6 separate regions of the Homo sapiens genome follow, and all the other regions are linked to region 1. Evidence: fine-mapped expression QTL. A gene starts in region 1. Each other region holds a variant in brackets. All regions are shown on one strand. Distances are from middle to middle. Region 1 holds the start of GGH (gamma-glutamyl hydrolase). Region 2 overlaps GGH (gamma-glutamyl hydrolase). Region 3 overlaps NKAIN3 (sodium/potassium transporting ATPase interacting 3). Region 4 has its middle 6.1 kb from the start of TTPA. Region 5 overlaps NKAIN3 (sodium/potassium transporting ATPase interacting 3). Region 6 overlaps NKAIN3 (sodium/potassium transporting ATPase interacting 3).

What was found. PIP is the estimated chance that this variant, and not a neighbour inherited with it, causes the effect.
Region 2: its variant is the best candidate, but not a certain one, in a credible set for the expression of GGH in whole blood (INTERVAL, PIP 0.75).
Region 3: its variant is the best candidate, but not a certain one, in a credible set for the expression of GGH in aorta (GTEx, PIP 0.85).
Region 4: its variant is the best candidate, but not a certain one, in a credible set for the expression of GGH in aorta (GTEx, PIP 0.62).
Region 5: its variant is the best candidate, but not a certain one, in a credible set for the expression of GGH in monocytes after LPS (Fairfax 2014, PIP 0.81).
Region 6: its variant is the best candidate, but not a certain one, in a credible set for the expression of GGH in whole blood (TOPMed, PIP 0.88).

Annotation. Positions count from the first base shown.
Region 1 is chr8:63,036,465-63,041,540 of GRCh38, reverse strand. It overlaps GGH (gamma-glutamyl hydrolase), which reads left to right and starts at 2,735. Exons shown (of 9, transcript NM_003878.3): 1 at 2,735-2,881. The coding sequence starts at 2,773. RefSeq lists a silencer at 2,342-2,701.
Region 2 is chr8:63,013,732-63,018,807 of GRCh38, reverse strand. GGH (gamma-glutamyl hydrolase) reads left to right here. Exons shown (of 9, transcript NM_003878.3): 8 at 1,178-1,315; 9 at 3,355-3,729. The coding sequence ends at 3,476. It overlaps LOC107986946 (a long non-coding RNA gene), which reads right to left. Exons shown (of 4, transcript XR_001745930.2): 4 at 4,398-4,649. Among named protein-coding and RNA genes, the nearest start is that of GGH, 23 kb to the left of the region's middle. The variant T/G (reference allele first, on the strand shown) is at 3,017.
Region 3 is chr8:62,350,752-62,355,827 of GRCh38, reverse strand. All of the region lies in intron 1 of NKAIN3 (sodium/potassium transporting ATPase interacting 3), which reads right to left. Among named protein-coding and RNA genes, the nearest start is that of NKAIN3, 100 kb to the right of the region's middle. The variant G/A (reference allele first, on the strand shown) is at 3,051.
Region 4 is chr8:63,089,614-63,094,689 of GRCh38, reverse strand. No RefSeq gene overlaps it. Among named protein-coding and RNA genes, the nearest start is that of TTPA, 6.1 kb to the right of the region's middle. The variant A/T (reference allele first, on the strand shown) is at 2,823.
Region 5 is chr8:62,887,581-62,892,656 of GRCh38, reverse strand. All of the region lies in intron 4 of NKAIN3 (sodium/potassium transporting ATPase interacting 3), which reads right to left. Among named protein-coding and RNA genes, the nearest start is that of GGH, 150 kb to the left of the region's middle. The variant A/TA (reference allele first, on the strand shown) is at 2,724.
Region 6 is chr8:62,947,341-62,952,416 of GRCh38, reverse strand. The region is part of intron 5 of NKAIN3 (sodium/potassium transporting ATPase interacting 3); the gene reads right to left. Among named protein-coding and RNA genes, the nearest start is that of GGH, 89 kb to the left of the region's middle. The variant C/T (reference allele first, on the strand shown) is at 1,913.

The sequences.
Region 1 (5,076 bases):
GACCTACGGCAATATACAGATTCATTGTAATCTCTACAAAATTCCAGTGTCACTTTTTTCACATAAATGTAAAAAAATCCTTAAATTTGTATGAAACCACAAAAGACCCCACATACCTAAAACAATCTTGAGAAAAAAAATCAAAGTTGAAGCCATCATACTCTGATTTCAAGACATATTATAATTATAGTAATTTAATCAAACTAGCATGGTACTGGCATAAAATTACGGGCATTGACCAATGCACTAGGATAGAAGGCCCAAAAATAAACCAATACATATACTGTCAATTGATTTTTGACAAAGGTGCCAAGAACACACAATGGGGAAAGGGCATCTTCTTCAATAAACAGTGTTGGAAAATCTGGAAATTAGACCCTTATCTCTCACCATGAACAAAAATCAACTAAAGTGAATTAAGCAGTTAAATATGAGACCTGAAACTGTAAAATTACTAGAAGAAAACACATGGGAAAAACTTTATGACATTGGTCATTTACATTTAATATTTTACTATTACAAAAAGATGCTCCAAAGAGCATACTTACACATATTTTTTTTGTTCACATGAGCACGCATTAATCTAGGTACACACTTATATCCAGAATGTACTGGGTTACAGAACATTTAGATCTTCACCTTTACCAGATATTGCTTAATTTTTCTCAAAAATAGTTATAATAATTACAATTCCACAAGAAATGCAGAGAACTGTCATTTTACTACATCCTTGACTTATTATCAAAGGCTTACATTTTTGTCAATTTACAGAAACCTGCTTCCAAAGATGGAGGAAGCTGGGAGACCAAAGAGGCTGACCAATCGAATTTCTCAGAAAGAAATACTTAGTAGAGACAAACAGAAGCGACCCCTGCACTTGCCCTCCAGAAAGTATGCTTTATTTAGCAAGCCTCTAGGGTAAAGACAAGTGCAACTAGTTAGCTCTTAGACTATTGTGATCACTGGGGACGTTAGATAAGCATCTTTATGAGGGGTTATATATGTTATGAGCATTGTTTAAAGACCTTTGCTGCAGAACACCTCGGTATGCTGTGGGTCAAACATCAGTCCCCAGGATAGTTTTGCTTCAAGATGGTGTCACTCTTGCCAGGAAACAGGCTGTTTTTCTACACAGTCTAATGGATGTGACATATTATCTTGCATTTTTCTGATGACTACAGAAAGTTTGGTTTGCTTTTCACATTCTTTTTCCATTTTTCTATTGTGTCATTTTTCTTATTATTTCTTCGCATATTTTAGAAATACTTTATATTTTATAACTATATTTTCCAAGTTTGTGCTTTAACTTTAATTTTCTTATATAGTCAATTTTTAATTAACATTTTTATTTTTAATGTTTTATGAAACTCTTCCAACAGCCTAAGTTAGGAAGATATATTTATATATTTTCTTATCAAAGTATAATATTTTGCTTTCGTATTTACATATGCACTTCACCTCGAGTTTATTTTTGTGTGTAACGCCGGGTAAAAAATTTTTCCTATGTGGATAGTCAATTATTCTGGCACCACAAGTTCATATTTACAAGGCTACTTGTCTATTTAATCATGCTCAAAACCAGCTCGGCCCTTTCATGTCTTTCATCACATCCTTTGTTGCTTACCTCTCACCACACCCTTCTACAGAAGCGTTATTTTCTTGTTAAACCAGACTATTCACTGCATTTACTCTTCTTGCAACATGCTAAAATTGTTCCTGTTGTCTCTACGAGTCACGCTTTCTGCCTTTTTTCCTTACTGAATTTAAACCTCTTGTGAAAAAGACTGTCCAATTTACGTTTTCACCCTTAATACTGAGCATTGATGTAGCAGGTTTTCAAATATTCTTGTTTTATGCTGAATTTCAGTTGGCCCTTATAGATGGAAACTTTCACTGAGTACAAGCTATATATCCATGTATTTAGGAACAATCAACAGTTTTAACGAATAGGAACCAGTCATCTTTTCTGCCCCGGTGGATAGGCTTAGTGGTGGTCGGTGGATGGCGCTGACCGCGGTTGATCAGAGGAAGCTGACGCCGTTTGCAGGCGTGGCCTGGGCGTGCCCGCTTCAAAGTAGACGCCCGGAGTTGGCCCAGTTCTGACCCTAGTGATGCGCCTGTGCGTGTGTTCCTATCGCCGTCCCGTCTTCACTTCCTACAGATGCCGCGACCCCCCAAATAGCAAGTGTGGACATTCACATTCAGGGGCACAGGCTGTCCGTACAGCGAACGTTGTCACCATTCCCGGAGATAGGGCCCCGACCTTCAAGGGGGCGGTGCGGTTGGCGCGCAGTTCTCAGGCGCCTTCTAGAATCCCCTGCCAGCCTCCCCGCTGCCTGGTTACCAAACTCGGCCGGGGACACCCAACCTCCCCTCTCGAGGACCTGGGTTGGCCAGCCCAGCTTTGTACGGGTGACTGAAGTCCACATCGACGTAACAGTTGAAAGGGAAGGACGCGGAGACCACCCGGTACCCGCCCCAGGCGTTTCCAGAGTCTCCGCTTAGGCGGCCCGTGGGGGTCGGGGTCGCGGTCGCGGTCGCGGACCGGGGACAGAGCAATGGGGCGGGCGCGCAGCGCCGGCTGCACTCCCAGAGCCTCCCACCGCCGCCCCACGGCCGCCTAGCGCGCGCCGGGACTGCATTTCCCATAGGCCCACGCTGCGGAGCACCGCCCACCCGAGTCTCACGCGAGTGCGCTGCCGCGAGGTGTCCCTGCCGCAGCCCCCGCCCGCCCGCAGAGCTTTTGAAAGGCGGCGGGAGGCGGCGAGCGCCATGGCCAGTCCGGGCTGCCTGCTGTGCGTGCTGGGCCTGCTACTCTGCGGGGCGGCGAGCCTCGAGCTGTCTAGACCCCACGGCGACACCGCCAAGAAGCCCATCATCGGTAAGGAGGCTGTGCGGGGCCGCAGCAGACGGGGAGGAGCTGGGTGTTGGCGCTGGGCGCCTCCCGCCGCCGCGCTCCAGCTGGCGCGTCCCGCCGGGAAAAACCCCCAGATGTGCTTCGCTTTTGGTGCAAGGAGGAACCCGGGCTGGGCACCATTTAGGTCGTACTGAAATGTACCTGGTTGAGGTACCTCGTTCATTCCTTTAGACTCATATGACTCTTAAAGGTGGGAGGGAGGAGGGTGCACCATGAAGAATCCTGCGGATTTTCTTTTTTTGTACACAGCTAGGAATTTCTACTAAAATAAAACATTTCCTTTTCGCACATAGTTGGGAAGTTTTACTCATTTACATCTACAAATTCTGTACATGCATTGCATTCATCAAAATGTATTGATGGCGTATTTAAAATACCAGTGCATTGTAATAGAAAATCAAGAAATTAAGGTATAACTTGGATTTTGTCATGTTCAGTAGCAGAGGACAACAGTGGCTGATATCCTAATGTGAGTTCTATTTGGTGTTAAAATGCAGCCCACAATTTTTCGTTTCCAACATATTTGTGTTTTAAAGAGGTAGTAAAATCAGTCTGTGTTACCAAAACACACATTTGAGACAGGCCCAAGGAAAGCTACCTAGGAGAAATCATCCTGGGGTTAAAATTTGCCCAAAGAAATTTGTGTGTGGACATTAAGATTAGTTTTATTTTGGCTGTAGGATTATGCCTTTCATACTATTTTTTTCTATGAATATTATCACTGTATTCTGTAACTAAACAGAAAGTAGATGAATGTTTTTTCATATAGGTAGTGCCCAGTTTTCAAATGGGTTGCTTACTAATATTTGGAACTTATTTCATAGCTGTTTAACATGGTGATTTGATTCTCCACGAATTAACTCAAGCTGTAATTAATGTAACAGGTTGCATATTGTGTGTCCAGAGAAGAGAAAAAAAAGCAGAGGGGATTCTTCCCCTTTCCTAGAATCAGGGGTAGCCCTGCGTCAAATATTTAAAAAAGGGACTTTGCTTTTGGTCACTGAGATCAGCACAACATCGTTAACTGAGTACCGACTATGTACACAATCTTGCTCTGGGAAGTGCAAAGGATTGAAAGATGACAAGCCACAAAAGTTGTGAGATGGCCTTAAATTATTGGTGGAATTTTGGTCATATTTTGAGGGACAGGGAGAACAGCTTGAGCTCTTTTCCCAGGGATGGGAAAAGTGAATATGCGTGGGCCCAGGGGAAGGGGAGATGTTGGTGGAACTCACTCTGATGTACTTCTCTTTCTGGTACCCTTGTGCTCCCATGATGCCCCATGTCTCCTTTGTGGTACCTCACCCCATGTACCCTGTACCACTCCATTTCCTATGACACTCCTAGTTCTTCGTTCCCTAGCCAAACTTTGTTATTCCTTAGTGAAGATGATCTTACCTACCAGTAAGGAGAAAAAGTTTTACTGAACAAATTTTGGCGTTTGACATGTTAATCTGAATACCTGATGAATGCCAATTGTAAGAAGCTGGGAATACAAAAGTGAGTAATACAGACAACAGCTCTTCCTATCAGGTGGCCTACAGAGACACTGAAAGTGTTCCAAATGCTGAAGTGCTGAATAGGAGTAGGCACAGGTACTCACCCGACAGACGTGTTTTGATGTATACTGGTTGCTATACTCTGCTGGGGCTGGGTTTCACTGGTAAAAGGAGGCCAGAGAGATGGGTGGGGCAGAGCATACGGGTCTTACAGAGTTTATTAAAGTTTAGGGACCCACTGAGGTAGTTAAACAAAGTGGTGACACCTGCTTGCTGATCTATCGCTACCTGATGTCCTTTCCTATTGCTTTCTGCTTTCACTCACCTGGCTCTAATAATATGGATTCCTTGCAACGTGACAGGCACAAATCTGACTCCTGGCCTTTGCACTTGCTATTCCTTTGTCCTGGATTGCTCTTTTCCCAGATATATGAATGTGGTTTACTCTGTCACCTCTCTGAAGTCCTGGCTCAAATGTCATGTTTTACCTTCTCAGGGAGGACTTGCCTGGCCACCGTGTTGAAGAGACTGTCCTTTCCTACATAGATGGGCTCTCCTTCCCCACCGTCTTTCTCTCCTTAGTGCTTACGACCAGCCATCACTCTATATATTATGCCTTTTTGTCTTGTTTATTGTTTGTCCTCTTTCCCCTCCCTGCTA
Region 2 (5,076 bases), 23 kb after region 1:
TGAGGACAAAAATAGTCTTAAATCATAAAAAAGATTTATATCCAATATACTAGAAGGTCTGCCTTTCAATTAACTCTATGTAACAATTTCCTAGTCCCCCAGCCTGTGGGTCTCTTGCTGGTAGCTTCACAGGTAGTCCCAGAATAGAGGGGAAAAACGGCAGTGTCACACGGAAGTGGGGGAGGCAGGGAGCTGAGTGCCTGGAGCTGCATGAGGCAGGTGTTTCCTCTCGTGAATACCCACAAAACTGGGATAAAATGTTTCCCTTCTGTGGCCTGCTCTCTAGTCAGAAAGCTTACTGGGATGAGAACAGACAGTGCTCTTACCCCTAGATATCTCTTCTTTCATTAATTCACTTCATTTCTCCAAGTACTTTCTGATGGTGGTCATGGTTACAATTCCAAAGCAGAAAATAATAGAGGGGAGATTTGTTTTTTTTAAATCAAAATGAGGAAAGGCACATCTGAAGAAGAGACAAATATGTACATTTTTCTGAAGGTAACTATTACACATATTCACTTTTTTTTTGAATTGTGGAATTGTTCATGAGTATGTAAACATAGAGAGAGTAATATGAACCCTGGGTGTCTATCTATCAGCTTTGACAATTGTCAACAGCTCTGTTTCCCTTCTTGTTTTATGTCTGCTTTTAAACTTCTAAAAAATATTTTAAAAATTTATACCACAAAGTCATCAGTCATTCCATAGACTGAGAGAGAGACACAGTTTAGGCAGTTTAGGCAGGGTGTAAAAGGATACCAGAAGTGCTGCCATACTTCATTCTCATATGAATAAGTCATTATGGGAGGACAGGAAAGCATGCTACAAGACGGGAGAAAGAGACCCACTGCGGAAGAAACTTGTATCACCAATAAAATGTGCATCTGACTTTTGGACAGGGATAGATTCCTCAGCTCAGCTTCTACTTTGCTATGAGTATCTCGAAAAGCAAATCGTCCTACAGATTGTAAAAGGTTGCTAATCAGTGAAATACGTTACAGGGAATTTTCACATTGATTATGAATGGAAATTATTTTGTGTCTGAGAGAATATGTACAATTTTACCTTGTCTGATAAGGTGAATTATAAAATGTTTTACATAAGAAATAAACCAATTTCATTATAAGTAACATTTTAAACCATTCTTAGTACTTACTAATTTGTGTTCTTCTTACAGGATATAAGTATCCAGTATATGGTGTCCAGTGGCATCCAGAGAAAGCACCTTATGAGTGGAAGAATTTGGATGGCATTTCCCATGCACCTAATGCTGTGAAAACCGCATTTTATTTAGCAGAGTTTTTTGTTAATGAAGGTAATATGAGGGTACATAATTTTGTTATTCTGGGGTAGTTTTGAAGAAAATTGCCCTTATCTGAACTTTTGCCTACCCTTTTGCTCTATAAATGTTTTGTAAGTTCTATAGGTTTAACTTTAAAGAATAATACAAATGTTAAATAATGTGAAAGCCCTAAAATCAAGATGTAAGGTATTCTAATAAAACCAGGACAGTTACTTCAATTATCATACATGCTTCAGTGGGCAGAATTCTTGAACAACAGTGTGAAGAATGTTGAGAGTTTTTTTTTTGGTTTCTTTTTCTTTGTTATTTGTTTTTTGACAGGATCTTGCTCTGTCGCCCAGGCTGAAATGCAGTGATGTGATCATAGCTTATTGCAGCCTCAAACTCCTGGGCTCAGGGGATCCTCCTGCCTCGGCATCCTGAGTAGCTGGGACTACAGGTGCAGACTACCACACCAAGCTCTTTCTTCTTGGATACTTTTAATTTAGATTCTTCCCCATTACTCTCCATTTCTTAGAATAATGCTTTAATTCTAACAGTGTCTGAGAATTAGGTGTTACTTTTCCAAGACAGTGATACAAATTGAATATATACCCACCAGTTTGTGATTTTAAGGCTACCTCTCTGTAGGCATTGGCATACTGGAGAAAGCAAATAAACTCTGCCTGCTGTTTGGTGATGAAAACACAGACATATTCATGCTGTGTTATGTTTGTGGGAAAAATCGAGAATTTGGTTGTAGATGCCTATTTCTTAGTTGAGCATTATAGGTACAGTAAGTCCTACGATTTAAGCAGAACTGTGTGTAGCAGGTCCTTGAACAACACTGTTTACTTTGAAGTCGTTTCATTATAACATTGTTAGAAAAAAATTGGTTTTGTTATACATCGTTGTGCTTAAAAGTACTACAAGAACCTATCGATGACGTTAAGTGAAGACTAGCTGTGTAAGACAGAGGTACAAAAACAACTTGTAAACGGTAGAGATCACTTTGGTGAGGTATAGCCATTTAAAGACTTAAGTGAACTTTGCTTTCATTCCATCTCCAAGCTTGCCCTAAGTTTTTATCAACTCTCCTGCCATTGCTGGGAAGTCAAGTACTTCCTACTGAGTTCACTCTGCTTTAGAATCATGCAGAGCTGAGTGGATGGTTTTATGACAAAAACTCCAAATTAAAAAAAAAAAGTATCCCATATACAGTATTAGTCCAAAGGAACATTTTCATGAGTGCGTGGAGTGAATGAGGGCAGCAGTGGCAGTGCCGCATTTGCTGCAGTAGTAGTCATGTGGCATTTGGTCTATGTGGTCTTTTATCTTCCAACATTCTTTCTGAAAATGCCGTAAGAGCCTGTATTTACTTTGACTTTGGGAGCTTTAGGAGCTCTCACCTCCTCACATTCCAGCTTTCATCATGCCAAACTTCTCACTGTGCCTCCTGGTTTTTCATAATGCTGCCTTACCAGTGAAAATGTCTCACTTCTCTGTCTGCCTCAGCTTCACCAGTTTCTCCATCTTTTTTACTCTTGTAGCATCCAGTGATGATACACCATATACCATAAAAACATTTTTATCATATGATTCTGTGTGGTTACGAGGCTGAGCTTTTTGAGTGTTAGGACCTGTTCTGTTTATATTTCCATCCCCAGGCTGTGTTATCAAGTCTTGTGTATTTGATAGGTAGGTATTTGAATGAGTTGCGGAGTGAGCATAGCA[T/G]GGGATATGCTGCAGGGGGAGTACAGCACAGCTGCTGTGGCCATGCGCGACTGTGCCATAAATCGGGCACTGCTTTATTTGGGGAAATTTTGTCAAGCATTTGCCTCCCTCCCTTCCTTGGTTCCTTCTTCTTCTTCTTTTTTTTTTTTTGGAAAGTAAGTTTGTTAGAGAAGTAAAGAAAAAAAAAGATGGCTGTTCTATAGGAAGAGCAGTCGCATTTCTCTTCTTGTTGATATTTTCCCACTTAATAATGCTGATTGCAGGAAGAAATATTATAAAATAGTCTCTTGAAGATTTTGTCATCTGATCTTTTTAAAAATTAACTTTTTTTCTTGCAGCTCGGAAAAACAACCATCATTTTAAATCTGAATCTGAAGAGGAGAAAGCATTGATTTATCAGTTCAGTCCAATTTATACTGGAAATATTTCTTCATTTCAGCAATGTTACATATTTGATTGAAAGTCTTCAATTTGTTAACAGAGCAAATTTGAATAATTCCATGATTAAACTGTTAGAATAACTTGCTACTCATGGCAAGATTAGGAAGTCACAGATTCTTTTCTATAATGTGCCTGGCTCTGATTCTTCATTCTGTATGTGACTATTTATATAACATTAGATAATTAAATAGTGAGACATAAATAGAGTGTTTTTCATGGAAAAGCCTTCTTATATCTGAAGATTGAAAAAAATAAATTTACTGAAATACAAATATTTTTTCTAATTGATTTGCTTGGGAAATAAATACCATCCCCTACCTGCCCACTCCATCCTCCTTGCTGAAAAAGAAAATAGTCTTTTAAAATCCTACCAATTGTTCATCTTGTTCATTGTGATGTCTCCGTCCTTTGGGTCTGAGGAGTATTTGTGTGTGTGTGTGTGTGTGTGTGTGTGTGTAGGTATGTGTGTATAGGTATGTGTGTGCATGTGTGTATCTACTTTTCTGCCCTGTGTTAACTTCATATTTAAAGCGTACACATCCTGAAAACAGAGTCTGTGTCTTGAACTTTTTATCTTTCACAATGTCCATAATGTCTAGCCCAGCAGGCCCTCAGTAAGTAATTGTCACTAATTATAAGTTTTTTTCCCATGGAAAATAATTTAAAAGCTGTCATATATTTATTTTGGTACACTTTAATGTATTTTTCTTTTTTTTTTTAAGATGGAGCATCTCTCTTGTTGCCCAGGCTGGAGTGCAATGCTGCAATCTCAGCTCACTGCAACCTCCGCTTCCTGGGTTCAAGCGATTCTCCTGCCTCAGCCTCCTGAGTAGCTGGGATTACAAGCATGTGCCATCACACCCAGCTAAATTTTGTATTTTTAGTAGAGATGGGGTTTCGCCATGTTGGCCAGGCTGGTCTCAAACTCCTGACCTCAGGTGATCTACCAGCCTCGGCCTCCCAAAGCGCTGGGATTACAGGTGTGAGCCACTGTGCCCAGCCAACATTAATGTATTTTTCAATCCGTGCTACTCTCCTCCACCCCTCACCATCCCATATAACCCTCAGAAGTATGAAATTTAGGAACTCCTTGAGGACAACCAAGCTGCTGGAAGGAAGAGAGAGAGGGTTTGCTGAGCTGTGTCTGGTAAATGGTGTTTATGCATCTGTTCTCTGTGGGCTTCCAGAGCTTCTGCAAGAGAAGGGGAAACAGGAAACTGATTGGGAATGATATTGGAGGGCATCGTGGATGATTTTACCTGCAACAAGAGAAGAACAATCACCTGCAGACACTGAGCTAAGCCATAATCTTTGGGGAATGAGGACAAATAGCACATAGAAATTGGAAGAGATTAATACATTTAATTAACCAAGAAAGAACCTTACTAGAAATGTGGCAGATTTAGTTTCTGTCCATGAATATGAAGATTCTTTGTTGAGTCTTACTGTTGAATGTGTCTGGCTAAGTTTTTGTCTCCCACCTCTAGAAAAAGGTAGTGACACTATTATTGCTCACGGTGCCAGGGTTCTTCCTAGCCCATTTGTGTTGAAACCATATAGAACTGCTTGTCTCTGCAGTTCCCAAGAACAACTTCATCCTGACTCTCTGGATACTCATG
Region 3 (5,076 bases), 690 kb after region 1:
TATGAATGTAGAAATGATGGTCCTGGAAAACCACGTCAGATGGCCCCAAAATGGCTCTAAATGTCGCAAATGCATGTGTAGAATTTGAGTAACACTTTTTCAGGAGACGGGAGAAAGAGCAATTTCACTAACATACCATATAATTGCATATGTGATTGAAGTATGTATGGGTAATTAAAGTCATAAATTAAGTGTTGTAAGTAAGCCACAGAATTTCATCTACATCCCTAAGACTTTGTACATTTAGACTGGTGACAAATATTAGAAAAATTGAGAAAACAGGAAAATCATCTGTGATGCTGAGTTACCTTGTATTCAGACTTACTGGACATTTGGTTCCATCTCCTTCTTAACTACCTCCACTGCCTCCATCAGCCTAAGCAATGCCAGGCCACATTCTATCCAAGGTAAAACTGGGATGCCAATGCTGATCCCAGAAGCAAGGGAGGCAGTAAAACAACCTGGATATTTAGAAACAGCATAAACTGTCTTGACTTCATGAATCTTATTATGAAGATTTCAAAGTTTGCCTCTCCAATGGAAAAAACAAATTTCCAGAAAATAGGAATCTACGCATCATGAAAATGCTGATGTGGCTTCAGGTATTTATGGGGAAACAGCATAATGATGTGAAAAGAACCCTCAGCTTGAAGACAACTGTGTGGTCTTCTACAAGTGACTCATCCCTGCTGAAAAATAATTCTCTATGAATCTCTCACATTTCTGTGCATCTTGACAGTGAAGTGCTGACTGCCCTGTGTTCTGGATAAAGTTTTTGAAGGTGTTTGGAAAGCAAACAGCCTGAGAAGATAGAGGCAGTATCACCCTCTAGAGAAAAGGGATAGCTTGCTTACTCTCTAGTGTAATAAAGATAAATCACCCTCCAGGAGAAAGGGCCGACTTGCCTTCTACCCATTGGAAAAGGTCCTGGGTCCTAAGTGCAGGGCTCTCCTCCTGCCATGCAGCTCTGCCTGTACATGTATCAGGGAGCCTTCTTTATGTCCCCTGTGGGAAATGGGGCTTAAGGATTGGATATACAGATGCTGATACATTGGTTATTGTCATTCCGTGTATAAGAAACTGTCGGCCTGGCGCGGTGGCTCACGTCTGTAATCCCAGCACTTTGGAAGGCCGAGGCAGGTTGATCACCTGAGGTCAGGAGTTCAAGACCAGCCTGGCCAACATGGTGAAACCCTTTGCTACTAAAAATACAAGAATTAGCCGGGCACAGTGGCACATGCCTGTAGTCCCAGCTACTCAGGAGGCTGAGGCAGGAGAATCACTTGAACCTGGGAACCAGAGGTTGCAGTGAGCCGAGATCGCGCCACTGCACTCCAGCCTGCATGACAGAGACTCCGTCTCAAAAAAGAAAAAAGAAAGAAAGAAAAAAGAAACTGTCTTTCACCTCTTATCCAGGAGTCTTGCATTTTCTACCAGCATTCATGAAACCGTGACAAGCTAACTAGTTAGTTTGCAAATAGCCTAAAATCTCAGACCCTTCCCAGTTCTTGAAAAATCTCTATATTCTCCAGTTTACTCACCTAAAAAAAGAAGGTAGGCTAAAAGATCTTTAGTGCCCTTTCCAGCTTGATGATTACATATAATTTGTATTAGAAATAACAAAAACCATGGCAAGAATGGTGCTTATATTTTGTTTTTATTGTTTAATCACAACGTTGTTTTTCTAAAAGAATTTCACTTCTCTAAAGCTTTGAGATATTCATGGTGTCTCCTTCCTAAAACAAAAATAACCTGTATGCTTTCCATTTTCAAAACACAATCTCTTCTATTCAGTTAAAGATCCACTCTTAAACATCTCAGATTGAGCTATAATCAACCCTTCTCCTCACAAATCCCTTATGCACACTCGCTTCTTTTAAGGAGCCATTAAAATGTAGCTTTAGTTTTGAAATTTCTCCCAGCATCTGAAATGTTCATTAACATCATGCCTGTGAAATCTTAAATCAATTTATCTATTTTATATTATAAATTTTGTCTTTGTGTCTGTTTCAATCCCAATAATATTAGTCACAAAAAAGTTATTCTCCATATGGGATAAGAAAAATTAGTTACTCACATTTGACAAAAAATTCTCTATAAGGGTAGGAAATTTATTTATTTATTAGTAAGTATTTATGGAGTTCCTACTATGTGCCAGGAACTGCAATAGACATTATCACATAAAAATTAATGACACATTATCAATTACTGCCTTCCTAAAATGCCCAGTGAAATAGGCGAGGCTATAATCTAGTGCTATATCTCATAGTTTTAATTTCCTTAAAAAACAGATAATATACCATTCATACATTAACAAATATTTGTGACTAATAGCTTAATGAATGAATAGATGAATAATGAATGAATAAATACAAGTATGCAAAGTGAGGAGAATCAAGGCTATGGATCAAATTTCAGTGTTGGCAGCCTGGGGATTTCTGAAATCATTTCACATCAGTAATGTTAATAAAAACTCATTTCTTTGCAGAAATAGAATTTAAGTTCTAATTGCATTAAAATCCCTGGGCTAACATTTCTTACTAAGAATGTACATAGGAACTATTAAACTACACTTAAACTAACCCTGTCTTAGAGTTGGCTTATTTTTTTATTTTTTTGTAAAACAGGCCAAGGTTCACCTGGGTATATGTACCACTGCATGACTAACCCTTGTCACAGATCTCTATAGCACAGTCTTCTACACTGATGGCACAGGCCTACTAGGCACTGGGTGGCACACTGAGGCTTTGTAGTTTTTTAACTTAAAGACACAGCCTACACAACATCTGGGAGTGCAGACTGTTGGTTTGATTTTATTACTGATCAAGTAACAAGAAGGCAGATGGACTCTTGTTCTTCCTATTAGTACAGACCCCTGAAGTCATCAGTCTGCCTGAATGTCCTGAGAATTTATATCATTAATTCATTCACTCCAAAATACTAATGTGGTACCTAATATTTCTTCCAATCACTGCCTAGGTAAGAAAGTAGTGGGTGTTCCACAAAGATGAATGGTCTCTCTGTGGACCTGGAGAATTTGCCGAGAAGAC[G/A]GGAGACACGCATGCTCACCTGTAATTATAACATGATGTACAGTGTCCTCATGGTGGTTAGCAGTTCAGTTAAGGTTCAAACAATGTGAGATAAAGTAATTTCAAGAGATAAAAAGCAACCTTTTCTATCTGACTCTCCAAGATGTAGATCAAATGCCAGTTATCTTTAATGTTGCGGGGAGAAGGCTATTTTAGAAGACGATGCTCAGCTTCTTTTCCCTCAAAGAATCCTCCAGAGCCTCTGACTGGCTCATGCATTGCAGAGCCTTCTTGTCTGTGCATGTTTTTATTTGATTCATTGGCTCCATAACTCCCAAGGAGGCAAAGAAAATGTTGCTTCTTCTTTCAAAGCACTTCAAGTCTAATATTGGAATCAGCATGAGTGAATAAAATGGTCCATGTGCTAAGAGAGAAAGGTGTGTCAGATGCAGAAGAGAGTTGTCACTTCTCTCAGGAGCTTCAGCAAGGAGATCTTGATCAGAGTGCTGAGGGATGAGAGGTCACAGGCGAGGAGGGCTAAGCCTGAGCTGAAGCTCAGCAATGGGAAGGAGTCAGGTCGACAGAAGTGTCTCAGCACCTCTGTCCTCTTCCTTGCCTGATTTCCCTAAACATCCCTTCCTGCTCTCCTAAGTCTAATTTGGGCTAATAACATAACTATCTCTTCCTAATATGTCCTCTCTCCAATTTGTAGCTGATCCTTTAGTTTCAACCCATTTCCCTGCCTGGTTAGTGTTGCCAGTTCATACTTGGTGTTTGACCAGCCCACGAGCTTCATCCATAGTGTTCATCCATACACATGGGGACCCTGACCAGGAGGAACACCTCTGTCTCCATCCTGGAACATAACTTCTGTAAACCTGCTTCTTCTTCCACAGTTGCCCAGGATGCCTGCATAGCATCTCAAAATCAATCTGTCATTACTTTTTGGTGATGCTACCTCCTCTTACAATCATAAATTCCAGAAAACTGAAAGGTAATTTTCATTATGTTCAGTCCAATAGAAATTAACATTTAATGGACATTTGATAAACCACAAAAACTGGTCAATTTCATATTATGATGCTATTTGGTTGTTATAACATCTTTTCAATGTAGGAACTGATTTATATTTCATAAACAAAATACCTGAGGTGTAGTGAAGTTATAATTTGTCCAATTTGCACAAACTACAAGATGCTTTAAAGACAAATAACCACAAATATACATATGTATTCTTATTATATATGATATATGTTGTGTATTTAAATGTTTATATATTTATATGTATATTTATTTTATATATTATAATATAAACAGTCAGGCCTCCGTATCTACAGGTTCCACATCTGTGAATTCAACCAAATGAAGATCAAAAATATTCCGAGGAAAAGTAAGAGTAAACAATTATAATACAACAATAAAAATAATACAAATACAAATATATGTAACAACTTTTCATAGCATTTATATTGTGTTAGGTATTATAAATAACCTAGAGATGATTAAACAGTATGTGAGAGAATGTGAGGAGGCTATTTACAAATACTCTCCCATTTTATACAAGAAACTTAGCACCCTCGGATTTTGATATCTGTAGACATCCTGGAATCAATCCCCAGGGAACAGAGGGATGACTATATTATCTATTCTAACATTTACATAACTTTTTATAGTATATATGTTAATATATATTATATATTTATACATTTATTATATATACTATTTACATTTTAATTTTATATCTGTTTTTATATACTTCTGTCTGATTGCTCTGCTTGATCACTGTCAGTGGTGAAAAGCTCATTACTCGGCTGGGCACGGTGGCTCATGCCTGTAATCCCAGCACTTTGGGAGGCCGAAGTGGGTGGATCACTTGAGGTCAGGAGTTCGAGACCAGCCTGTCCAACATGGTGAAACCCTATATCTATTAAAAATATAAAAATTAGCCGGGCATGGTGGCAGTGCCTGTAATCACAGCTACTCTGGAAGCTGAGGCATGAGAATCGCTTGAACCCGGGAGGCAGAGGTTGCTGTGAGCCAAGATTGC
Region 4 (5,076 bases), 53 kb before region 1:
CCCAATTTGACATCAATGTAAGCCAACTGAGCCCCAATATAGCACTGTTCTCTGGGGAGACAATTCAGCTGCTGACCTGTTGATTACACTGAACCACTTACATCAGGGAGAGGCAGTAATATGTTCTCATAGAAAAGTTACACATTTCACATATAAATTCGCTTTCCTCACCAAAGTAGCTTCAGAAACACCATTGTGGGTAGATGCTGTTTTGTCATCACTGATGTGTTGTCATCACTGTAGTATCCCACACATCATTGCCTCAGACTGCAGAATTTATTTTATGGCATAGTAGGCATAGCGAAGAGCTCATTCCAACAGAATTCACTGGGCTTGCCAGCTTCTTACCACCTAGATACAGTTGATTGACTTAGAATCAACTAAAGATTGACAAAGAACCAAGCTAAGACTCAGTTATGGTGCCACCTGAGATAAAACGTCCTGCAAGATTTATAATTTGCTTTAGAGGATATCGATATACCTTAAACACATGGTCAATATTTGGTGCAGAAACACTATTGCATAAGACAAGGGTCAGGAAACAATAGATAAAAGTGACCATGTGTCTCTTATTATTACATCTAATAACCTACTCACTAAGTTTTGTTTACTGTATCAAAAAGCGTTGATTCAGAAAATTTAGAGGTCCTAGTGCCCGAGAGAATTATTTGATTAGAGAATACAGTTACGGTTGTAATAAATTAGAAACTGAAACTGTCACATAGCCATTTACAGCTTCTCTTACTATTGAATTGACCTTCAGAAAAGGGGAGTCATGGTACTAGCCAAATTCTAGCCCCTCCTGGGCTTTTCATGAAGAGACTTTTCATGATCTGAATTACTAAGGAGAAATTGGGTTTCAGCTGCAGAATAGGGGTAAGAAAGACCATGTTTGCACCCTAAGGAATTCACCCAAGAGTTCTATGTTATGTGGTAATAATTAAGAAAAACTACATTAACCCAACAAAGTTAGGGCCACCAAGGACTCAGAGCTTAGGAAAGAAAGGTTTGGGTTATACCATCAGATAGATTCTGTCCCACTGGTAGAGAATGTGAGAACCATGAATAGAAACTGAATGAGATTCTCCTCTTGTCTTGTTGTAATGTTTTTGAGAGCTTGACTTGTGACCAAGCGGGTGCACTGTCATTCGGGGTGTGATTTTCACGTCTTGTCCGGTAGCCCTGTCTGAAAAGTCTGGAACCCAAGACACACACAATTTTAAGCAGCACACTTTTTGTTCCAAATGTGTCAAGCTCTCAGGACAGTTTGTCTTAATAAAAAGTCCCATCCATAAGAGGCTTTTGTCATCTCAACGTTGTTGTCTGGTTAGTCCTGGCAATGTGCAATCCCAGGAGAAGCTACCCAGTGTCATGGATTAACAGGTCTGTTAACAATATCCACAGATTTGTGGGATATTGGCGGCCCTGTATGCACAAATGCTATGTTTTTTTTTCTTCTCTGAGACTTCAGCAGAACAAACACTATTCATAGCCATCTGTGGCAACAAGTATTTTACTATCTCAGCCTATTCTTAGGAGTGAATTTTCTTTCTTTCTTTCTTTCTTTCTTTCTTTCTTTCTTTCTTTCTTTCTTTCTGTCTGTCTGTCTGTCTGTCTTGGATAATCATTGAGATTGCCTTTTCTATGCTCTCTCCAAGAAAACTCTCGTGCTTATATGGTGAAAATTTATTCTAAATCTGGAAAATTACCTCCTGGGCTTTTCATGAAGAGAGTTATTGGATTAAGTCGCTACAAGAATAAGTACACCATTGGAAAGTTATACTTCTAAAAAGATACTTTTGGAGGTACTCTTTTGTTACTGATCCTTTTCCCTTTCAACGACAGGTTTTGATTGCCTGTCTTCTTCCATCTCCGAGAGCACATGAGGCTTTTGGGTCTTTGTAGGTAGATGGTCAGTTGAGAAGCTGAGAGCCTAGAGAATATGGCTGTACAGAAACGTGGGTTATTCCCTGTTTGAGGCTAGTAAAACTTTCCTTTCTTTGAGCCATCTTTGTTGTGGTCCTGCATCTTGTGAGAACTGCTTTGCGACTCTTTGGAGCTGTCTAGGGTGTCCTTAGTTTCAGTAATAACCTTAGTTAAGGCTTATTGATTTTAGTGAGTCACTTGGAAAGATACCTTTGGTTTAACAGAAAAAAAAAGTTCAAAAGCCAGGAATATTGGCTGGTTGTGCTGGTGGAAATCTGATAAGAGATTTGAAAACTTTTTTTTTTTTTTTTTTAAAGAACTCTAAGGTCAGAAGCCAGCTTAACTGAAAGCTGATAACAAGTTATGATTTTTTTTTTTAAAGATCTTTCTACTTTTTCTCTTTTGGGCCCTGTTCCTGGAAAGTTTCTTCAGTCGACTGAAATCGTTTTTAATAAGGTGTTAATCTCAGAGGGACTGGTCCCTCTGTTTGCATCCTCTCTTGTTGGCATGTTTTTTTAATGAGAAAAATGCAAAACTTCATTCGCCTTTGGAAAGCTTAAAATCTCTCCCAATTGACTCCTCTAAGACTTGTTCTTCTATTTATTTCCACTTTGGCTCCTCCTTCCTTTTGCCACATGAAGAAATCTAGAGATTTCTCGCACCCTTAGACCCCTTGAGGAATCCAGAAAAAGGTGCCACACACATCCTGGGTATTTGGGTTGGTTCCAAGTCTTTGCTATTGTAAATAGTGCTGCAATAGACATATGTGTGCATGTGTCTTTAGAGTGGAATGATTTATATTCATTTGGGTATACACCCAGTAATGAGATTGCTGGGTCAAATGGTATTTCTGGTTCTAGATCCTTGAGGAATCACTACACTGTCTTCCACAATGG[A/T]TGAACTAATCTGCAATCTCACTAACAGTGTAAAAGCATTCCTATTTCTCCACAGCCTCACCAGCATCTATTGTTTCCTGACTTTTTAATAATCGCCATTCTGACTGGTGTGAGATGGTATTTTATTGTGGGTTTGATTTGCATTTCTCTACTGATCAGTGATGATGAGCTTTTTAAAATATGCTTGTTGGCGCATAAATGTTTTCTTTTGAGAAGCGTCTGTTCATATCCTTTGCCCACTTTTTGATGGGGTTGTTTGTTTGTTTTTCTTGTAAATTTATTTAAGTTCCTTGCAGATTCTGGATATTAGACCTTTGTCAAATGGGTAGATTGCAAAAATTTTCTCCCATTCTGTAGGTTGCCTCTTCATTCTGATGACAGTTTCTTTTGCTGTGCAGAAGCTTTTTAGTTTAATTAGATCCCATTTGTCAGTTTTGGCTTTTGTTGCAATTGCTTTTTGTGTTTTAGTCATGAAGTCTTTGCCCATGCCTGTGTCCTGAATGCTATTGCCTAGGCTTTCTTCTAGGATTTTTATGGTTTTGGGTTTTACATTTAAGTCTTTAATACATCTTGAGTTCCGTGATCTTTTTGGCTTTAGGGGGTACCAGGGATTACTGTGTTTTGTGAGAAAGCACTTAGCCACTGTGTGTGCAATAGCTACCAGGTCACTGGTAAGGGCAGCAATTTTGGAGACATCTGAGAGCAGTTGCAGTAAATAGTTATTACTGCAGGGCGCTGTTCATTTCTTTGTGCATTTAGAGGGGGAGAAAGAACAATTCAAACACTTTGAGGCTGTGGAAACATTTGCCTTCTAGGGCAATAAGATTCCCATTGGAGATAGGCAGATCAGAGAGTGAGCTGATTGATGTTGGGTCGTCCACTAGCATCAGGGGAATATCTTTTGAGACGTACCATGGAAGCATTGCATGGTCCATTCTGAAAGCATTTTCCTCTTTTGTGAGGATCTACACTGAGAATAAAATATATATTATATACCTTTTCATGTGATGCACCTCATGAAACATTCTTGCCAAAGTAAGATTTAATCTAAATCTAACCAATCCTCTAGATCTAACTATTCTTTACCAGAAACGCAGGGAAAAGAAAAACAATGTAATGATGCCAGTAAGAAGCAATCAGAAAAATCCAGAAGATGGTAAATGCTGAACAAAATTGACCCGGTTATACCGACAAATTAATAGCATTTAAAAAAGAGAGAGGCTATTCTTGACACTTATGCACAGCAACCAAATGCACTGTATGAACTGTATGTGGATCCTAATTTGAAGAACTTAAACGAGATATTTTTGAGATAATCAGGGAATTTTGAATACAGAGTGGGTACTAGATAATACTGGGGAATTGTTGCTAATTTTTTAAGTGTGAAAAATGGTATCGTGGTGATGTAAAAAATTTATTTTGTAGTATTTACAAGAGTATGATATTTAAAATAGTATGATATGTGGGTATGTCTTTAAAATATTTCAGCTTATTAAAAAAGTAGGGGAGGTGGATAAAACAAGATTGGCAAAATATCATTGATTGCTGAAGCAGACTGTATATTGGTATTCATTACTATTATTTTTACATATGGTTGAAATGTTCTGTGGTAAATATTATTTTATAAATTTTACATAGAGTTTCCCAAGTGATGTGGGGTAATATTTCTGCTTCAATGGAAAATTATGCATTACATAGACTCTAGATGGCACCTCCTGCATTATTTGATTCTCATTCTATCGAAGCTATTTTACAATTCTGTGAACTGTAGATAACTGATAGCAATGGCAAATAATTCTTGTCTAATAACATGCTAATTCTGAACTGCCTGGAGGAGTTTTGATTGACCTCTCTCCCTCACTGTGAAAGAAGTTAGTTTTGCCTCCATTTGCACATCCCTTTCAACATCCTTTACTCCATGTAAATGTGTGCTTTTTTTTTTAACTTATTTGAACTTGCAATAACATGTGTCTACTTTCCTCCTTACCAGTTGAATAAAATCTTTAACACTTGTTCAGTTTTATATATGTATAAGTGTCATAATTTTATCTCTTTTTGAAAATGTTATCTTTTAACAGTGAAAAATATTTGTCTTTTCTGTGAAGCTGAAAGTAAAATAAATTGGTATACTTATGAATTATTATGCTAATAAATAACTAAATGTTAAATAATTTCAGAGTAAATTGTAAGGTAGCTACAAAAGTCAACTAACTTTTCATTCCAGTTTTGCTTTTATTTCCTCATACCATTAGTT
Region 5 (5,076 bases), 150 kb after region 1:
CTTTCTTTCTAATCTTTATATTTAAGAGTTCCTGTTCTTCATATTTGAATTTATTATTGAACCAGAGTAACAAGCCTGATTTGGTTTATTTATTTTCTTCAGAAATATGTTTGTATCTGTATTTTCAAACATGTGATTTCAGCATTTCACTAGGGTACTAATAATCACAGCCTGGAAAATATAAGGATATAACTAATTCATACTTCATTAGATTCAGAAACATTTTCTCACATCAGTTAATAAGACGACAATTTTAAAAATGTCTGCCTTTTTCTCCACATGGTGCTAATGTGAAGTATTTAACACTATGATGGAAGCAGATTTAGAAAGAGATTTTGCAGATGTCATTTGAAATGTTAACCTATGTTAGGATCTGACTATGAAATAATATTGTCTAAAGGACAATGCTCCTTCCTTTCCTTTTTATTTCTGTTTATTATTTTTTTCTAATTTGGAAAGATTTTACATTATATAATACATACAGATACCTCTACTCAGGAAAGTAATTAAATGGTTGTATAAAAAGGAACTATTAAGTATATCTAATCCTTGCTAAAATGAATTAAGGCAGCCTTAGGAATCTATTGTATCTCCTATGTCACCCATCTTCATCAGCCCTAGTTTTGTTGTTTGTGCCATTGCTACCAATTCTAATCCTACAAATAGCAGGAGTTTAAGCCTTATTCCACTGGTCATGGATTCTCAAATAGTTTTCAGCAGGGTCTTTCCTGACATCCCTACTTTAGTCTCATCATTCAGCTAGTATTTATTGTGTGAAGATGAAAAAGAGAAAGCGGGGGGAAGGCAAGGAAGAAGAGAAAGAGGATGAAGAGTGTGATGAAGAGAAAAGAAGGAGAAAGAGGGAAGAAGCCACATTCTTAAGGCTGAAACTATATCTTGTGGCTTTTGAAGGATTTTTATCTACATCTTAGAAATAGTAAAATTACCATGTGAATTGGTAAATATGGAAGGAATTTTGTCTCTGTTCAAAAGGCTAACTAGATGTAGCATTTTAATAGTTAATAGTGAAGTCAAGCTGGCTCGATTTTTCCACCACGCAGCGACACTTGCTGTATTAGTCAGGGTTCTCTAGAGGGACACAACTAATAGGATAGGTGTATATATGAAGGGGAGTTTATTACGAGAATTGACTCACATGATCACAATGTGAAGTCCCACAATAGGCTGTCTGCAAGCTGAGGAGCAAGGAAGCCAGTCTGAGTCCCAAAACCTCAAAAGTAGAGAAGCTGATAGTGCAGCCTTTAGTCTGTGGCCAAAGGCCAGAGTGTCCCTGGCAAATCACTCTTGTAAGTCCAAGAGTCCAAAAGCTGAAGAACTTGGAGTCTGATGTTCAAAGGCAGGAAACATCCAGCACAGGAGAAAGATGAAGGCCAGAAGACTCAGCAAGTAAGTTTCTCCCACCTTTTTCTGTCTGCTTTATTGCAGCCGTGCTAGCAGTTGATTGGATGGTGCCCACCCACATTGACGGTGGGTCTGCCTCTCCCAGTTCACTGACTCAAATGTTAATGTCCCTTGGCAACACCCTCACAGACATACCCAGGAACAATACTTTGCATCCTTCAATCCAATCAAGTTGACAATATTAACTATCATACTTGCCTCTGCCCATTGGCCTTCAGAAGGGTCCAGCATCATGGTACCCTCCCACCTTGCTCTCTTTCAGATATTCTCAGATGCAGCAAACTACAGACATCTGGTAGTCTTCAAAGGATAGAAAATTAAAGGGACAAAGCCATTTAACAATCATAAAGGGATAAAATTTTGGAAATACCACATTAGCAAATGGTGCGGAAGGACTTTGGTGATGAGAGGGTGGAATGAAAAACAAATGCCACACCCTTTCTTTTTGGTTACCACTTCCCTTTTGGGTAGACAGGCAAGCCTGCAGAGAGGGTACCTCAATCCTGTCCCTCTCCTATTGATGAGAGGCTGCTGGTGAGTGTGCAAGCAGGTTCATTCCAAGAGCATCAACATCTAATGGTGCTCCAGGTGGAAGAGATGAAAACTCAAGTATGGAATGCTAATTCTTTGTTTATATACATTTCATACCTGGATGCTCTTTCTACACTATTGTATAAGGAGCACAGAGGAAAATAAAGTACTTTCATTGTGGGCAGAGAAACTACTTTTCAATAAATTAGAAAATAACTTCATGAAACATAAGTTAGTTGAAAGGAAGAACTGGCCTGAACAGAGAATTGTGACCTGCATCCTGCATGTAGGCAGTGGGCTTGAATGAGGAAAGTACCTGTATGACATATCCTTTCATTGTTGCTCAAATTAGCTAACAAAAGGACAATTACAAACAAAGACAGAGCTATCAATGCTTATTTGCTAAACATCTATTTGGTATTGAGTATACTTATTTGCTATCAGAGAGCATAAAAATGCTTCCATAATCCCCTTGGAAGGGCAGTGTTTTTAAATGTTTAGTAAATGTTGGCTTACTATCCTTCCAAGGGAGCTTATCAGAACATTTTAATGCTGCTTCAGATCAACTGATTGAAGAAGGGTAGTTGTGGATTCCAACAGCTGAAACTATCACCTATTCAACTAAAGAACATGTTCAAGATAAATTATTTTTACAGCCTTTTCTACACACCACACTCTAATTGGGAAGGTGAATATAGAGCTTGTATTAATATATATTTTCTCTGTCTTGAAACCAACCAAAATCATATTGAGAAACTTTGTTTTTTTTT[A/TA]TACCATTCCACTGTGGCCTCTCAACATGGAACCAGAAATATTAATAAGATATATTTTCTTTCTTTTCAAACCCAAACCTAATTAAAAGTTATGCCACGCTCATCCCAATGTCAGACCTTTGCTCACCAAATTCTCCTCTCCGAATCCTGGCCGTTGCTCAAGGTCTATCCTAGGTGCTCTGTCATGAAGGCTTCCTGAGATCACCTCGATCTTCTCTGGAATTCTATGTTGTGTCTATTCTGCATTTCTAAATGAAACATTACCTAACTAGTTTTTCTCAACTTACAAGAACCAGAAAAAATATTTCTTCACTTCCTTAGGTACTTTTTAATCACTAAAAACATACTTATCCAAAAGTGGCATATCAGTTGTTCAATAATGGTTAGATTTTATCAGTGAGAAGTGATGGCTCCCTCCTTGGGAGAATCTACTATTTACTATCTCTCATCCTGAGCTTATCAGCAATACTATATTACATTATTTTGGTGGTCTTCTGAGGGACCTCTTATGATGTTCAACAAGTTTTGTTTTATTTTATTTTATTATTATTATTATTTTTTTCGAGATGGAGTTTCACTCTTGTTGCCCAGGCTGGAGTGCAATGGCATGATCTCGGCTCACTGTAACCTCCGCCTCCCAGGTTCAAGCAATTCTCCTGCCTCAGCCTCCTGAGTAGCTGGGATTACAGGCACCTGCCACCATGCCCAGCTAATTTTTTGCATTTTTAGTAGAGACAGGGTTTCACCATGTTGGCCAGGGCGGTCTCGAACTCCTGATCTCAGGTAATCCACCCGCCTCAGACTCCCAAAGTGCTGGGTTTACAGGCGTGAGTCACCGTGCCTGGACTGTTCAATAAAATTTTGAATTTTTATTGTACTGTTACTTTATTTTATTTTTCTTTGTAACTTTGCATCTAGTCCATTGCTGACACACAGCATTTGTCTAAGAAACTTTTGCTAAAAATTGAAAATAATTCTTTGGAACCTCTCAAATCAGTTCAACAAAAGGTAAGAAGGTCTCATTAAAAACCTGTTTGTTGAATAAACAACACAGAATAACACATAAATACATAACTCATTGCTCTAAAAGTAAGAAAGACTGATATAAGCTAAGAAGCAAGACAACTAAAAATTGTTCTAGTGGACTAATACAAAACTTCAGATAGGAAGGGTTGAAATAGATGGCAAAAAGCTAAATCACAAAACATATTCACTTTTAAAGATGCCTAAAGTTAGCAATTTTGTTTTTAAAGGTTACATTTCTGGTCTGGAAGGGAAAAAGCTTAGAAGTCGTCAGTCCATGCTCCAACAATAAAAGCTAGAAAAACTGAAAAATCAACAACTCTTCTTAGATACTCAGAGAAGTAAGGTTGCAGGGCAAACCACTGCTCCCAAAATTGGAGATATGCACGTAGGTACAGAGAATCACAACTTAATGGAACAGAAACCTAAACCGGGTAGAAAACTTTGGACCGTAATTGATGAATTGTTGGAGGCTTACAGTGGACCATTTGAAAGTTAAAAAATGAGGACCCCACACATTTTTGTAAGTTTTATTTACAGGAGCTCCACCAAGTTCTCACAGTGAGTATTAGAGAAAAATCCCCTTGTGCCCTCAGCAGGGCTAGGGGAAAAGAAACCGTTTTGAAATATGTCAGAGCATTCTGTTCTTAACAAGCCCTGCTCTCAAGAGAAACTTTTATTTTAAACATGACCTAAACTATTAGGATTTTATCAGAACCTAATGACCTGGGGAAAGAGAAATACCCAACTCTAGCCTGCTTTACTAATCCTTTCTCATCTAAGTGGGAGAGCAAAAAACTAAGACTTATTTGTGAAGGTCACAATTCAGAGGCTCAAAAACTGAGACTTAATCGCAAGGCTGTAAAATGCATCACTTCCCCCTACACCTTACCACCACATCGTTAAAGGCACATTTATCATGTTTCCTTCTGCTCTGCACTTACGTCCAGCTATCAGAAAACAATTACAAGGCATACTAAAAGAGAACTTCAAACTTCTTAGTTTGAAGAGACAAAGGAAGTATCAGAGCCAGACTCAGAAATGGCATGAATGTTGGAATTACTGGAATAAAAATTTGAAACAACTATTATTAATATGCTAAGGGGTTTAATGAAAAAATTGGTCAGCATGCAAAACACAAGGACAATGTAAGCAGAGAAATGGAATTCTAAGAAAAAAGTAAAAGGAAATGCTAGAGATAAAAAACATTGTATAAGAAATAAAGGATGCTTTTGTTGGGCTCATTACTAGACTAGACACAGCTGAGGAAAATCTCTGAGCTTGCGCATATATCAACAGAAACCTTCAAAATGAAAAAGCAAATAAAAAA
Region 6 (5,076 bases), 89 kb after region 1:
AAATATATAGATTTTGAAAACACTTTGAATTTCTGTTTTCATTGGTAAAATAGTGTGGCTTTATTAGGATGCAGTTGTAAGTTTCCTGTGCACTTGAATTCCAAATACAGTTCTGCTTCATGTATTTTTTAACTTAGTAAGAATATTTTTTGTTTTTTTTAACCCATATGTTGTACTTCACAAAAATTGTATTGTATTATTTCCACAAAATAAATATATTTATCTTTAATATTTACTACTTAATTAGATTATGACAGGATTTAAAATAATATCAGAGTTTTACCTTGGACAGAATGAACATCTAAAAGGCTTATGCTTGCTGGGCATGGTGGTTCATGCCTATATTGCTAGCAATTTGGGATGCCAAGTTGGGAAGATTATTTGAAGTCAGGGGTTTGAGACCAGCCTGGCCAACATGGTGAAACCCTGTCCCTATTAAAAATTAAAAAATTAGCTGGGCATGGTGGCACACACCTCTAATCCCAGCTACTCGGAGGCTGAGGCAGGAGAATTGCTAGAACCTGGGAGATGGAGGTTGCAGTGAGCTGAGATCATGCCACTGCACTCCAGTCTGGGTGACAGAGGGAGACTCTGTTTCCAAAAATAATAAAAATAAAATAAATAAAAAATGAAATAAAATAAAGGCTTATGCTAAGCCAGGTGCAGTGGCTTATGCCTGTAATTCCAGCACTTTGGGAGGCCAAGGTGGGTGAATTGCTTGGGCTCAGGAGTTTGAGGCCAGCTGGGCAACAATGGGGAAACACCGTCCCCATTAAAAAAAAATTCAAAAATTAGCTGGACGTGGTGGCATGTGCCTGTAGTCCCAGTTACTTGGGAAGCTGAAGTGGAAGGATAGTTTGAGCCCACAGGGCAGAGGCAGAGGTTGCAGTGAGCCCAGATTGTGCCACTGCACTCCAGCTTGGGAAACAAACTCAGATCCTTTCCGCAAAACAAAGCAAACAAACAAACAAATTTAAAAGGCTTATGCTAATTCTATGAACTGGATTAAAAAATTAAAATTATTTAAATAATTTAATTGGTGTTCTGTTGAAAGCATTTGATAAACTAATGTAATTCCAGTATTATAAACTGGTATATAAGACTGATATCATTATTTTAACTCTGAGAAATTCTTCTTCTCCTAATGTGTCAGTGCATTAACTTACACTTCCAGGTGCTCTCCACTGACCCTACCAGCTGGATATGGTGGGAAGAGGTGCTGGTAGGAGCTGTAGATTTCAGTGCCTCTCACACACCCACCTGAGACTGGAAGGTGTTAGCCATCTCCACTACTCCTATCCAAGTACATATCTTTATCAGTGACCAGGTTGCATACTGCCCTTGAAAGGAAGGTGCTAGTTATATTGTGTCTTTTAAGTTTTGGAGAAAAGAGAGTGGTATTGTTGGTTTTCTTACAGATTTAACCATACAGTTAAAAGAGAATTCTAAAAAAAAAAAAAAAAAAAAAAAAAGGATTCTGTTTATTGCTCATGCATCTCGCATACCTTGATAAGACTATGGTAGAAATGGAAAGAGTTGTCTACGTGGCCATTCTAGATTTGCCTAATACAACTATTAATAGTAATATTTCATTTGAAAACTAAAAAATGTAGGACAAAGTCTAAACCAGATAAAGTGCCAGGGCAACTTGTGTAAGCAAGGACTGTTTTAACCAAATTAGGACATCTGGTTCCTGCAGTTGATGGCACTATAAATCAGCCACACCTTCTATGTGTTTTTTCTTTTCTTTTTTTTTAAATTGCTATTTGTTTTCTTCTTTCTTTTTAAACTGTTACTTGTTTTTTGGCTATACCTTCTCTGCATATCAGAAACCTAGCATGATGTAAATGTTGTAAACTCTAGAAATAATATATCACATATAGGTAAAACTTAAATTATCAAGATTCTAGAA[C/T]TAGACAAGACTACAAAAAATTTAACTATTAAGGAGGAATCTTTGAAAAGTAAGTAATAAAGAAACTGAAATATCAAGAATTCTTCATGGATGGGATAGAGCAATGAGTCTTTTTGGCCACAGAAGCCACCAAGTCCTCAAGGTGAGGATGTTTTCATATTAAAAAACAGTTTGTCATGCATGCATCAATACCTTCCATTTGCTAGAGTGGGATGAGAGCTCAAGTAAAGGGGCAAATTAAAGTGTACACAGAGGGCGAGTTTACAGATTCTTAAAGCTTTTTTAAAATGACATCAAGTGCTTTAAAAAATGAAGAAAATTAAGAAATAGAACACTTAACAAAAGACTTAAAAATAACTCATTAGGAAAGACCTTCAGTTTTTAATTATGTTTGGGGAAAGGCAGTCATATTACACTGATAAGAAAGTAAAGCAACTGCATTTTTAAATTCACTTTTTTGAGAAAGATAAGAGAAGAGAAGATGCTGAATTAAGTACTTTCTTCAGTGGAAATCAGGGTGTGAATTTCAATGAAACACGAAAAGAAATAGAAAAGGTATGGACAGGTTTTCAAAAGTATTAGAAAAGGAAGGTTGGAATAAAAACATCCAAGGAAATCTGTAGTTATAACAGCAAGAACACTATTGAGCAGAAGAGATGGAGCAACTGAAGGAAGCATCAGGGCACAGCTTGCTGGGAGCCTGCAGTACAGTGAAATTGAGTTCCATGTACTTTGATTATTAGATCCTGGAAGTGAAAAATATATTTTAGAAAAAAAAAAAGCAACACAATTAAGGGTTGGCATCAACTATCCAGAAAAGCCAGCCACACAGTGGGCTGCTCTCTACACCCATTCTCAGAACCTGAGGTGTTACCATCAAAGATCCCCTGGAGAGAGCCTGCAGCCAGGAAACCCTTTTGCAGTCCTTTCAAATCTTCTTCCTGTGCCAACTTCCAGGAGCACAGCCGAGCAACTTCTTGGAAGAAATAATATTACTTGTAACAGAATATCTTTGTGGTTACTCGCTCTAGCCACCACCAATTCCTGACAAGGATTCTCACAGAACTGAAGGAATTACAGAGCTACTTTAGATTTATAGCAGCATCTGACTGTGCAAATACAGACTTGTATTCTACTTGTAAAAAAATACACAACCAATAGCAACTTTTCTATTTGTTTATGGGACACACAAATGAAGTTTCCATTAGATAATTCAGTGCTACTGATTCAGGTCCCCACTCAGCCATGGCAAACCTGATTGACTTTATGCAGAATCAAAGGGGAACTCAAGGCAATTGACTCTCCTTCGTCTCGTGCTGCTGTTCAGGAGACAACATGTGCAAGGTGGCTGGCTTTCAACCTGGCAGCTTCCTATGAGAAATAATTCACTACATGTCACATGAAGTTGAAGATGTAGCCCTCCAGGGGCTATGGGGAGAGTCACCCTCAGCTCTGAGAAATTTACTGTGCTCCTCAGAGGCAGTCTAAGTGCTAATGTTTCCCTTCTCTTATGGAAATGCTTGCTGCTTATGGTAAATCCAGAATAGATACTTGGATCCTCCTCTGTGGACTGGAGTCTATTTTCCTGTACGTTTATGCATATCTCTTTGGATTTTTCAAGATTCTGCTGAGCTAAAAGCTCAGAACATTGGCACGAAGACGTGAATTAACACCGTTAGATGAAGAAAGAGAGGTTGGAACTGGGCAAATTGAAGCAAGATCTTCTTTTATCATCTAGACATTACATTAGTAATGCCTCTGGTTTTATAAATATGGCAACTTAACACAATTTAAAGTTTAACTTATTTTTCATGTCTGATCTTAAACATATTTTGAAATTTGATAAGGACTTTGCTTTCATCTTTGAAAAGATACTTTAAAGTTGTAAAACACTTTTAATACACAGAAAAATGTAGAATATAAAATAATAGATGCCTGTGTTTCCACTTTAAGATAAATATTTTTTGCTATATTTTCTTCAAATTTCTTTTTATTTTAAGAAATACTGGCCAGGTGCGGTGGCTCACGCCTGTAATCCCAGCACTTTGGGAGGCCGAGGCAGGCAGATCATGATGTCAAGAGATGGAGACCATCCTGGCCAACATGGTGAAACACCATCTATACTAAAAATACAAAAATTAACTGGGCGTGGTGGCGCGTGCCTGTAATCTCAGCTACTCGGGAGGCTGAGGCAGGAAAATTGCTTGAACCCTCGAGGAGGAGGTTGCAGTGATCCGAGATCACCCCACTGCACTCCAGCCTGGGCGACAGAGTGAGAGACTCTGTCTCAAAAAAAGAAAAAAAAAAAAGGAAATACCAAGTCACAGATATAGGTAAAACTCTCTCTTTCATCCTCTTGACTTGATTTTATGTATCAGGCAGATCTTGTTTTGAATTCCAGCTCTACACTTACTAGTTGTGTAACTGTGGGCAAATTATTTAACCTCTAAGCGGCAGTTGCTCATATGGGCAAGCTGCTTGCTCTAGTTATCTATTGCTATATAGCACCCAACCACATAACAGTGTCTTAAAACAATAATCACCATTTGTTTTGCTCATGTATTGGCACGTCTGAGCAGAGCCTAGCAGGAAAGGTTTATTTTTGCTCCATGCAATGTTAGCTGGGGCACGGGAGGCTGCAGGAGCAGCTTCTGAGGTGGTGCATTCACATGGCAGGCAAGTCAAGACAGGCTGTTGGCTGTTTGCTTAGCTGGGGCTGAGGGCTGGAGACCTTGTTGCTCTCCACAAGGGGCTCTACATGTGGCCTGAGCTTCCTTGCAAAATGGTAGATGAGTTCAAGGGCTAGCAACCAAATATAGCCAGGCAGAAGCTGTGTCGCCTTCTATGATCTGGCCTGAAAAGTCACTCAGAGCCACTTCCACCAAACTTGATTAGTCAGGACAGCTGCCCATCCAGCCTGGGCTTAAGAGGCAAGAACAGCAACTCCCCACTTCTTGATGGGGAAGTTAGACAGGAAATACTGTTGTGACCATTATTAGAAATTAAATTCTTCTACAATGGCTAACACTAATAGTAACTTCCAATGGGTTTACTATGAAGATTGACAAGAAAAATGTATATTATATACAGGACAGTGCCTTGCCAGCCCTTGGAAGGAGCTCAAATATATCAATTTAATTCTTCTTCTTCACTAGAACTTTAAT